Linked DNA regions of Homo sapiens: region 1 is linked to region 2. The links come from fine-mapping of genetic effects on gene expression. A gene starts in region 2. The other region holds a variant in brackets. All regions are shown on one strand. Distances are between the middles of the regions.

The links. PIP is the estimated chance that this variant, and not a neighbour inherited with it, causes the effect. A credible set is the group of variants that fine-mapping cannot tell apart.
Region 1: its variant is the best candidate, but not a certain one, in a credible set for the expression of SRM in whole blood (Lepik 2017, PIP 0.51).

The regions. Positions count from the first base shown.
Region 1 is chr1:10,998,499-11,003,872 of GRCh38, reverse strand. No RefSeq gene overlaps it. Among named protein-coding and RNA genes, the nearest start is that of TARDBP, 11 kb to the left of the region's middle. The variant A/T (reference allele first, on the strand shown) is at 2,634.
Region 2 is chr1:11,057,583-11,062,956 of GRCh38, reverse strand. It overlaps SRM (spermidine synthase), which reads left to right and starts at 2,939. Exons shown (of 8, transcript NM_003132.3): 1 at 2,939-3,180; 2 at 3,612-3,732; 3 at 4,065-4,157. The coding sequence starts at 3,014. RefSeq lists silencers at 2,490-3,019, 3,230-3,419.

The sequences.
Region 1 (5,374 bases), 59 kb after region 2:
CACTCTGTCGCTCACCTTGGAGTGCAGTGGTGCAATCATGGCTTACCACAGCCTTGGCCTCCTGGGCTGAAGCGATCCTCCTGCCTCATCTTCCAGAGTAGCTGGGGCTACAAGTGCACCACCATGTCTGGCTAATTTTTTTTATTTTTAAAATTTTTTGTAGAGATGGGGTCTTCCTACGTTGCCCAGATTGGTCTCATGTTCTTGGCCCTAAGCGATCCTCCCGTCTCGGCCTCCCAATGTGCTGGGATTACTGGCATGAGTCAACTCTTCTCCGGTACGTCTATATTCTTTTGTAAAGAATTTTCCTTCATCACCTGGAGATGAACCACAGTTCCTCCTAACTGCTTAATCCTTTATCAATTTTCAGGATAGACTGACACAATAATCACCTCCAATAGTGACAAATTAATTGTATTTTTTTCTTGTTTAAAAATAGTCACGGCTGGGTGCAGTGGCTTAGGCCTATAATCCTAGCACTTTGGAAGCTGAGGCAGGTAGATTGCTAGAGCCCAGGAGTTCAAGACCAGCCTGTACAACATAGGGAGACCCCATCTCTACAGAAAATTTAAAAACTAGCCAGATGTGGTGGTGCACACCTGTAGTCCCAGCTACTTGGGAGGCTGAGGTGGGAGAATCAGTTGAGCCGGGAGGCGAAGGTTGCAGTGAGCCAAGATCATGCCACTGCACTCCAGCCTAGGAGACAGAGTGAGACCCTGTCTCAAAACTAATAATAATAATAATAATCACTATGAACTCTTGCATTTTTATTTATTTAGTGTTTCAAAATAGGTTATAGTCATTAATGTTTCTAATGATCACATTATTTTACTCAGGCTCTGTGGAAACCCTTTAAACTGACTCTAAGTCCATTGGATGTGTCTCTATTAGCCTTTGAGCACATTCTTGCCTTCTGGACCACCAAGATGTACCGGGCTTGTCTTATATTTTCCCTGCTGTATCCCTGGAATCAGCCATTCCTCAAAGGATCTATGGTTTTTTGTTTTGTTTTGTTTTGTTTTGTTTTGTTTTGTTTTGTTTTGTTTGAAACGAAGTCTCGCTCTGTCACCCAGGCTGGAGTGCAATGGTGTGATCTCAGCTCACTGCAACCTCCACCTCCCAGGTTCAAGTGATTCTCCTGCCTCAGCCTCCTGAGTAGCTGGGATTACAGGTACATGACACCACACCCGGCTAATTTTTGTATTTTTAGTAGAGACAGGGTTTCACCATGTTGGCCAGGCTGGTCTCAAATTCCTGATCACATGATCTGCCCACCTCGGCCTCCCAAAGTGCTGGGATTACAGGCGTGAGCCATCGTGCCCTGCCAATCTCTGGTTTCTTATAGTGGGAAAAACGATTTAGAAATCAGAATCAGGGCATTAGGTTGTTGTCAGAAGCATTTTTTTGTTTGTTTGTTTATTTTTTTGAGACGGAGTTTCGCTCTTGTCGCCTAGGCTGGAGTGCAATGGCGTGATCTCAGCTCACTGCAACCTCGGCCTCCCAGGTTCAAGCAATTATCCTGCCTCAGCTTCCCAAGTAGCTGGGATTATAGGCATGTGCCACCACACCCAGCTAATTTTTGTATTTTTAGTAGAGACGGGGTTTCACCATGTTGGTCAGGCTGGTTTCGAACTCCTGACCTCAGGTGACCCACCCACCTCAGCCTCCCAAAGTGCTGGGATTACAGGCATGAGCCACTGCGCCGGCCTTGTTTGTTCTTTGAGACAAGGTCTGGCTCTGTTGGTCAGGCTGGAGTGCAGTGGCCCAATCTTGGCTCACTATCACCTCTGCCTCATGGACTCAAGCCATCCTCTTACTTCAGCCTCCCTAGTAGCTGGAACTGCAGGCACACACCACCACACCCAGCTCTTTTTTTTTTTGTATTTTCAGTAGAGATGGGGTTTCACCATGTTTCCCAGCCTGGTGCTGAACTCATGAGCTCAAGCGATCTGACCACCTCAGCCTCCCAAAGTGCTGGGATTATAAGCATGAGCCACAGCACCCGGCCCACAAGTACTTTTGAAAGGTAAACTAATACTAAGGTAAGATATTTTTATTTTATCACGATTTACTTTCTTTTTTTTTTTTTTTTTGAGACGGAGTCTCACTCTGTCGCCCAGGCTGGAGTGCAGTGGCACAATCTCGGTTCACTGCAAGCTCCGCCTCCCAGGTTCACGCCATTCTCCTGCTTCAGCCTCCTGAGTAGCTGGGACTACAGGCACCCACCACCACGCCTGGCTAATTTTTTTGTATTTTTAGTAGAGACGGGGTTTCACCATGTTAGCCAGGATGGTCTCGATCTCCTGACCTCATGATCCAACCTCCTCGACCTCCCAAAGTGCTGGGATTGCAGGCGTGAGCCACTGCGCCTGGCTTACTTTCCTTTTAATTTAAGCATCTTAGCTGCCAAAATTAAGGTATGCCTCCCTTATTTGTTCTAGATCTTGGGTTTTTAAAACCATTTTTTGTAAAAAGCCAGTTAGTACATAAATACAAATAACAAAAAAACTGCAGTCTCTTGTTCTCCCCAGCCCCTTCCATATCCCTTATCAGAAGTAACCATTCTTTTAGTTGTTTCTTATGGATATACCTACATCTTTTAAAATAATAAATCTATCCTGCAATTAAAAAAA[A/T]TTTTTTTGAGACAGGGTCTTGCTCTGTCACCCAGGCTAGAGTGCAGTGTCTCGATCTCAGCTCACTGCAACCTCTGCCTCCCGGGCTCAAGCCATCCTCCCACCTCAGCCTCCCCAGTAGCTGGGAATACAGACATGTGCTACCATGCCTGGCTAATTTTTGTATTTTTGCTAGAGATGGGGTTTTGCCATGTTTCTCAGGCTGGTCTCAAACTCCTGGGCTCAACCTTGGCCTCCCAAAGTGTTGGGGTTACAGGCATGAGACACCATGCCTGGCCTTATCCTGCAAAATTTTCATTTATTCAATTTAGAAAGTATCTACTGATTTCCTATTATGTCTAATGAGGGTTTTTTAGCTCACACTTCATTATCATTTCCTCCATCCTCTTAATATACTGATACCTAATATCACCATTTTTGGTTAAATACATATTCAATGTTTTCACTATTATGACTACATAAATTGTGTTCATGACTGAGACAAGTTTTATCTTTTCTTGTGCAACTTTACTTTTTCCTGGAGTTAATAATTGCCTTGCTTTTTCATTTGCTTTGTTCTCTTTGAACATCTAAATAATCATTTTATGCCCTCCAAAAGTTGTGTAAATGTCTTGAATAAGGTTTTCTTCATAGTCAAATCTGTCAGCTAGTTTGTGATTTTTTTGGGGGGGGACAGAGTCTTGCTCTGTTGCCCAAGCTGGAGTGCAGTGGCGTGATCTTGGCTCATTGCAACCTCCGCTTCCCAGGTTCAAGTGATTCTCCTGCCTCAGCCTCCCAAGTAGCTGGGATTACAGGTGTGCACCACCACACCTGACTAATTTTGTATTTTTTTAGTAGAGACGGGGTTTCACCCTGTTGGTCAGGCTGGTCTTGAACTCCTAACCTCAAGTGATCCACTCACCTTGGCCTCCCAAGGTGCTGAGATTACAGGTGAGAGCCACTGTGCCCAGCCAGATAGTTTGTAATTTTTATTTTTTTATTTCTTGGAGTCTTCATGCCTCCTTTCCTGGATTGCTTGCTGGAAATTGTATCAGTTGTCATCCTGGAGACTTCCTTACATGTCTGAAAATGGTCTTATTCCATTTACATGTCATTGGTAGTCCGGTTGCGTACAGAATTTTAGGTTGAAGGTCATTCATACTCAACACTTAGAAGATATTTTTCTGCTGGCGCCTAGCTTCTCTTATTGCTGTTAAGAAATCCATTGCATTCTTGGTCATTCACGTAATCTTCATTTTCTCTCTGGACTCTTTCATGATCTTACCGTATCATCCATTTTCTGAAATTCAAGATGGGCTGATCTGAAGGTAGTCAGTTATCTCAGTTGATCAGTTCAATTCTTTCCCCTTTTCTCACTACTGCACTTGACTAGTCTTAAAAAGAAAAAAAAAAGGGCTGGGCATGATGGCTCACACCTGTAATACCAGCACTTTGGGAGGCTAAGGTGGGTGGATCACCTGAGGTCAGGAGTTCGAGACCAGCCTGACCAACATGGTGAAACCCCATCTTTACTAAAAATACAAAATTAGCCAGGTGTGGTGGCACATACCTGTAATCCCAGCTACTTGGGAGGCTGAGGCAGGAGAATTGCATGAACCCAGGAGGTGGAGGTTGCAGTGAGCTGAGATTGCACCATTGCACTCCAGCCTGGGCAACAACAAGAGTGAAACTCTGTCTCAAAAAAAAAAAAAAAAAAGAATGAAATTCAAGATGATGACTTGGTCTTCCTGAGTATCTTTTTTCATTCATTGTTCTGGGCATATGGTGATCTTTTTGTTATAGAGATTTTTGTCCTTCAATTCTGGGAAAGTTTGTTGTATTATTTCTTTGACAGCTTTTTCCCCAATGATTCCTTGGTTCTCTCTTTCTGAAATTCCTGTTAGCTATTGACTTTCCTACAATGATGCATCATTTTTGAAAATCTTTTTTCTTTTGTTGTTACAATTTTAAAAATTCTACTTTCTGTGAAATTTCCCCAATTTTACCTTCAATATTTTTATTATTATTGTATTTATTTATTCATTCTTTTTTTTTTTTTTGAGATGTAGTCTTGCTCTGTCACCCAGGCTGGAGTGCAGTGGCACAATCTTGGCTCACTGCAACCTCTGCCTCCCGGGTTCAAGTGATTCTCCTGCCTCAGCCTCCTGAGTAGCTGCACTGCAGCTGCCCACCACCACGCCTGGCTAATTTTTGTGTTTGTAGTAGAGTCAGGGTTTCACCATGTTGGCCAGGCAGGTCTCAAACTCCTGGCCTCAGGTAATGCATCTGCATCAGCCTCCCAGAATGTTGAGATTACAGGCGTGAGCCACCGTGCCTGGCACACTGGGGTCTTCCTTTCACATTAGAGGCTCTCTTCTCTTTGTCCAAAATCCATAGCCCAACTCCTTGGACCTGTTGGAATATTTCACAGGAGATTGTTGTTTTGACTCCTTTTATTATTTCCCCTTGGGCAGAAATTGTGCGACCAAAGTGATAACATAATAATTTATTTGAGCATTTATATACCAGGCTCAGAGTTGGCAAATTTAATTCTTACCTCAACTCTATTTACCAAGTACTACTACTATTGACCTTCTCTGAGGAAACTGAGGCACAGAAAGGCCAAGTAACTTGGCCAGAGTCACATAGCCAGTCTGTGGCAAAGCTGAGGTCCTTGGTTCTAGAGCCCACGCTCCTAATCACCTCTAATCCATCTCCTTATTTGGAACCTGGGGGACAATTTGCTCTCTGTTCTTTATAGA
Region 2 (5,374 bases):
GGTTGGGTGGGATAGTTAACCCACTAGACACTTAAGCTTTACAACTGGGTTTTTGAGGTACATTGGTCTGAATTTAGGGGAAAACATTTCATGCTAAAGCCTGATTTTCTCAGTCCTGGTTGTTTGGTTGTTTTTTTGTTTTGTTTTGTTTTGTTTTTTGGTGTTGGGGGTGTTTTTTTTTGTTTTTTTTTTTTTCCTTTCTTGGAGACAGGGTCTCGCTCTGTCACCTAGGCTGGAGTGCAGTGGTGCGACTGTGGCTCACTGCAACCTCCGCCTCCTGGGTTGAAGCAATTCTCATGCCTCAGCCTCCCAAGTAGCTGGGATTACAGGTGCACGCCACAATGGCAGCTAGTTTTTGTATTTTTAGTAGAGATGGAATTTCACCACCTTGGCCAGGCTGGTCTTGAACTCCTGACCTCAGGTGATCCACCCGCTTTGGCCTCCCGAACTGCTGGGATTACAAGCGTGAGCCACCACGCGTGGCCAATCCTGGTTTTTTTCTGTAGACTTCTGTGGTCATCTGGCCTGACTTTAACGTCAGTTGTGATTATAACTGGGCTGTGCAATAATGGCTACTTCTGGCAAAATCAGTTTTTCTTCCTTGTGACCTGAAGTCAGGTGGCATTTCTGGATTCACAGTGCTGTATATTTGGGGGCTTTTTTGTCTGTAATTTACTCAGGGCTTTTGTCTTCTCTGAACTTGGAAGGTTTGTGCAATGTCTGTACACTCTGGCCGAGAGGTCTCAAGTTCTGTGCCTGCTTGAGGCTGAGGCCTCTCAGTTTCACTCCCTCTACAGGAGGACAAAGGATGTCAATGTGGCCTTTTTCATGTGAGGACCCACATGCTGGAGCAGCTTTGTCCAGCTTATAGAGGGGATGGGATGGACCTGGCCCTCCACTTTCCCCCATGCAGTGTCCTGGAATGCCAGGGCCACTGTCTATGGTCAGTCCTTCACCACCTAAAAGCAAGCTGATCCACAAGGCACCTGGCTGCATCCAGGCCTGTCATCTACGGCCACCATCCTCAGCTTCAGAGCTTATGATCTGGCTCAGGGAACACAGACAAGTACTGCCATCTACAGCCACCATCCTCAGCTTCAGAGCTTATGATCTGGCTTAGGGAACACAGACAAGTACACGGGCAGTTACAACCCAGAGGCAGAAATGTCTTGGAGGAAGTACAGGCAATGTAGGCAAACACCTTGACCCAAGTACAGGATTGAACCCAATCAAGCCTGTAGCACTGGACACACTGATTGACTCTGTCTTATCCACTACGTGGACATTTCAAGAATAATCTTCGTTCCTGGAACAAGTCCATGGAAGCTGTTGCCTAGCAATGTTTTTTATTTTTTAGAGACAGTCTTGCTATGTTGCCCAGGCTGGTCTCGAACTCCTGGGCTCAAGCGGTCCTCCTGCCTCGGCCTCCCAAAATTCTAGTATTATCAGCCTGAGCCCCTGTGCCCAGCTGCCTAGCAATTTTTTTTTTTTTTTTTTGAGACGGAGTTTCACTATCGTTGCCCAGGCTAGAGTGCAGTGGCGCAATCTCAGCTCACTGCAACCTCCAACTCCCGGGTTCAAGCGATTCTCCTGCCTCAGCCTCCCGAGTAGCTGGGACTGCAGGCGCGCACTACCATGCCCAGCTAATTTTTGTATTTTTAGTACAGACGGGGTTTCACCATGTTGGCCAGGATCGTCTTGATCTCTTGACCTCGTGATCCGCCCGCCTCCGCCTCCGCCTCCCACAGTGCTGGGATTACCGGGGTGAACCATCACGCCCAGGCACCTAGCAATTCTTTAGCGGTCTTGGTTTACCTCCCCTTTAGAAGGAGCTTAAAAGCAAGCAAGGCACATTGTTGCCTAGGCTTGAGGCTTGCTCTCACCCATAAACAACGCTGTTACTCTGCTCTGGGGACGACACAGGAAACGTTCCCCACCTCCAGGTGGAGGCTGCAAAACGTGTCAAAACCATCCCTGACATAATGTCAAGAGTAGCTTATACTAGTTTCATCTTCCTTCCTTGGCATTCGAACTGCGTGTGGAACAATTAGCATTTAATATTTGGTAATTAGCATGCTTAATGTGATTCTGAGAAGTTCTTTGACATTCTCATAAAAACAGCACATTCCCACCCACCCTTCAAAGAGCAAGACCCAGTTTGTCAAGAAAAATTGCGTGCCAGTCTTTTCTGGTGCTGAATATGTATGTTCTGGGCCTCTTCCTGGACACTGCTGGTAAATTTAGAAACTCGTTTAGAAAAGCACTTCTCTCGTATTCAACAGCCTATAGGCTCATGGCGCAGAATCTAAGGGAAAATGGCTAAATCCAGCTTGTGAATTCGCGGGCTGTGATGATTCTTTCCAAGTAAATAAAAACCCTCGGTTCGCCCCGACGAGCCACATAATCTGTTCAAATCCAACAAGGAACCAGATTTTGGACGCAAAGAAGGATACGTTCTACTCGCCCCGTGCAACAACGTAAACCACTGTAGCCACCCGCTCCCGTGTCTCCAGCCCAAAGGCTGACTCTCCAGTCCGCACGTCGCAGCGCTCTTGCCCTCCACACCAAGCCCGAGTCCCGCAGCCCCTCGAGGCCCTCGGTGCCTCCCAACCCCGAGAAGGAAGCGGGGGCCGGTGGTGCACCGCCCCGGCTGCTTGGGGCGGAGGAAGGACCCGGACCCCTTCCGCCGGCCCAGCCCGCCCCGGAACCCGACCCGGCCGCCCGGCCCCGGCCGGGCCCCACGTGGCCCCTGGAGCGGGCCGCACTACCCTGCTGCCGCCGACGGACGGCGCGCCACAGCCACTCTGCGCCGCTCTGCGAGCCGGTGGCCAATGAGCGCCAGGCGAGGCCGCTTTGCCATTGGCGAGCGCGGGCTCCGCCCCCGCCGGCAGGCCCCGCCCCGCGCCCGGGTTAGGTTGCGGCGCGGGCGGCGGGCGGAGCTGGTCCCGTTGTGCTGCGGCGCCGCGCGGCCTGCAGTCCCGGGCCCGCGCCCCGCGCCGCCCGCCCGCCCGCCATGGAGCCCGGCCCCGACGGCCCCGCCGCCTCCGGCCCCGCCGCCATCCGCGAGGGCTGGTTCCGCGAGACCTGCAGCCTGTGGCCCGGCCAGGCCCTGTCACTGCAGGTGGAGCAGCTGCTCCACCACCGGCGCTCGCGCTACCAGGACATCCTCGTCTTCCGCAGGTACCGCCGCTGCCCGCAGGCGCCTGCCCCCTAGGCTCAGCCCGGGCCGCCTGCTGCCCGCCTCACGGGCCTCTCCACGCCGGGACCCAAGCGGGCTGGACCTCGTCCTGCCCTGGCCCCCTCGCCACCCCTCACACCGCCTCCCTGGGCTGGGGCTGGGACTGCGGGCTGGCCTCTTGGGTGGGGGAGTCGGAGTCTGCGCCCCGCTCCACGTGTCAGCCCTCAGGACACGTCAGAGCCCGAGGAGACCCCGGGTCCCACCCCGGCCTCCACCCGGCGGCCCGCCTGCCGTTCCTCGCCACGTGTCACCATCGCTCCTCATCCCTGGGACCCCTAGGCGGGATGGGGAGACCCTCCTCACCCAGGGCGGCTTGGGGTACGTTTTCCCCACCCCAGAGAACCCAGGTCCCCGACTGTCACTCCGCCCGCAGTAAGACCTATGGCAACGTGCTGGTGTTGGACGGTGTCATCCAGTGCACGGAGAGAGACGAGTTCTCCTACCAGGAGATGATCGCCAACCTGCCTCTCTGCAGCCACCCCAACCCGCGAAAGGTACCCCAGTGTCCCCTGGAACAGTGCCGGACGAGGGGCGGCCCCAGGTGTGCTCCGGGCTCTTCCCAGATGCTGCCTGCATGGTTGTCAGAGAAAGTGCTAGCGAGGCCAGGGGCGTCCCGCGGAGGGGTGGGGGCCGACACTGACGCGGCCTCGGAATCCTAGGGCAGCCCTGGAAGGAACTTCCAGGAAAGGGGACACCGGCACGAAAGCGTTTCCGAGGGTAGAAAAAGATGAGGCCCGTGGGTCCGAGGGGTCAGGGGGTCTGCTTCAGGGGCCTGGGGGCTCCCAGTCCTGCCAGGGCCCCTGCCTTGACTGCCCCCTCCTCCCAGGTGCTGATCATCGGGGGCGGAGATGGAGGTGTCCTGCGGGAGGTGGTGAAGCACCCCTCCGTGGAGTCCGTGGTCCAGTGTGAGATCGACGAGGTGAGTGCCGGCGTAGAGCCAGGTTTGAGTCCTGGTTCTCCCAGCGGCCAGCTGTGCCCTGAAATGGCTGCACACCCCCGAGCAAGGCAGGTAGGGCCTGTTTCTCCATCTGGAAAACACCTGGTCGGGGAGGGTTCAGTAGGAAAACCAGATGGCAGAGGGCCTGGCAGGTGGTGAGGGCACCTGCGTGGCGAGCTCTTACTAAAACTGAGCTGATTTTTTTTTTTTTTTTTTTTTTGAGACAGAGTTTCGCTCTTGTTGCCCAGGCTGGAGTGTGATGGTGCGATCTCGGCTCACTGCAACCTCCACCTCCTGGGCTCAAGTAGTTCTTCTGCCTCAGCCTCCGGAGTAGCTGGGATTACAGACATGCGCTACCATGCCCGGCTAATTTTGTATTTTTAGTAGAGACAGGGTTTCTCCATGTTGGTCAGGCTGGTCTCGGACCTGGCGACCACAGGTGATCCGCCAGCCTCGTCCTCCCAAAGTACTGGGATTACAGGCGTGAGCCACCACGCCCAGCCGACTAAGCTGATTTTTAATCTGAGCCCCAGGCAGGGCCCCAAGACAGCTCAACTATTTGTACGTTACCCCTTACACTCAGTAGCTGCTCACTAAAATCATGCTACGTGCCAGGTGTTGCCCGGGTATGGGGACAGTGGTAGACGACAGATCAGTCCCTGCCCTCTAGGAGCTGATGTCCTAGTTAAAGGAGACATCAGATGGCCAGACGTGGTGGCTCACACCTGTAATCCCAGCACTTTGGGACGCCAAGGCGGGCAGATCACCTGAGGTCAGGAGTTCAAGAGCAGCCTGGCCAACCTGGTGAAACCCCATTTCTACTAAAAATACAAAAATTAGCCGGGCATGGTAGTGCATGTCTGTAAACCCAGCTACTAGGGAGGCTGAGGTGGAAGAATTACTTGAGCCCGGGAGGCGGAAGTTGCAATGAACCGAGATCTCGCCACTGCACTCCAGCCTGGGTGACAGAGGAAGAATCTGTCTCAAAAAAAACAAACAACAAAAATAGAGACATCAAAGGATGGTCTGATGAAGGCAAGACAGGGGCTGGGGGACAGGAGAAGGCAGGGTTCCTGTGAATGCATGGGGGGTGGTCAGGGCAGGCCTCCAGGAGGTGGCGTTTGAGCTGAGACCTCAGTGAAAAGCAGGTGGCCGTGTGCAGGGAGGGGGAGGTTCTCCTGGCCAGAGGTTGGAATTGC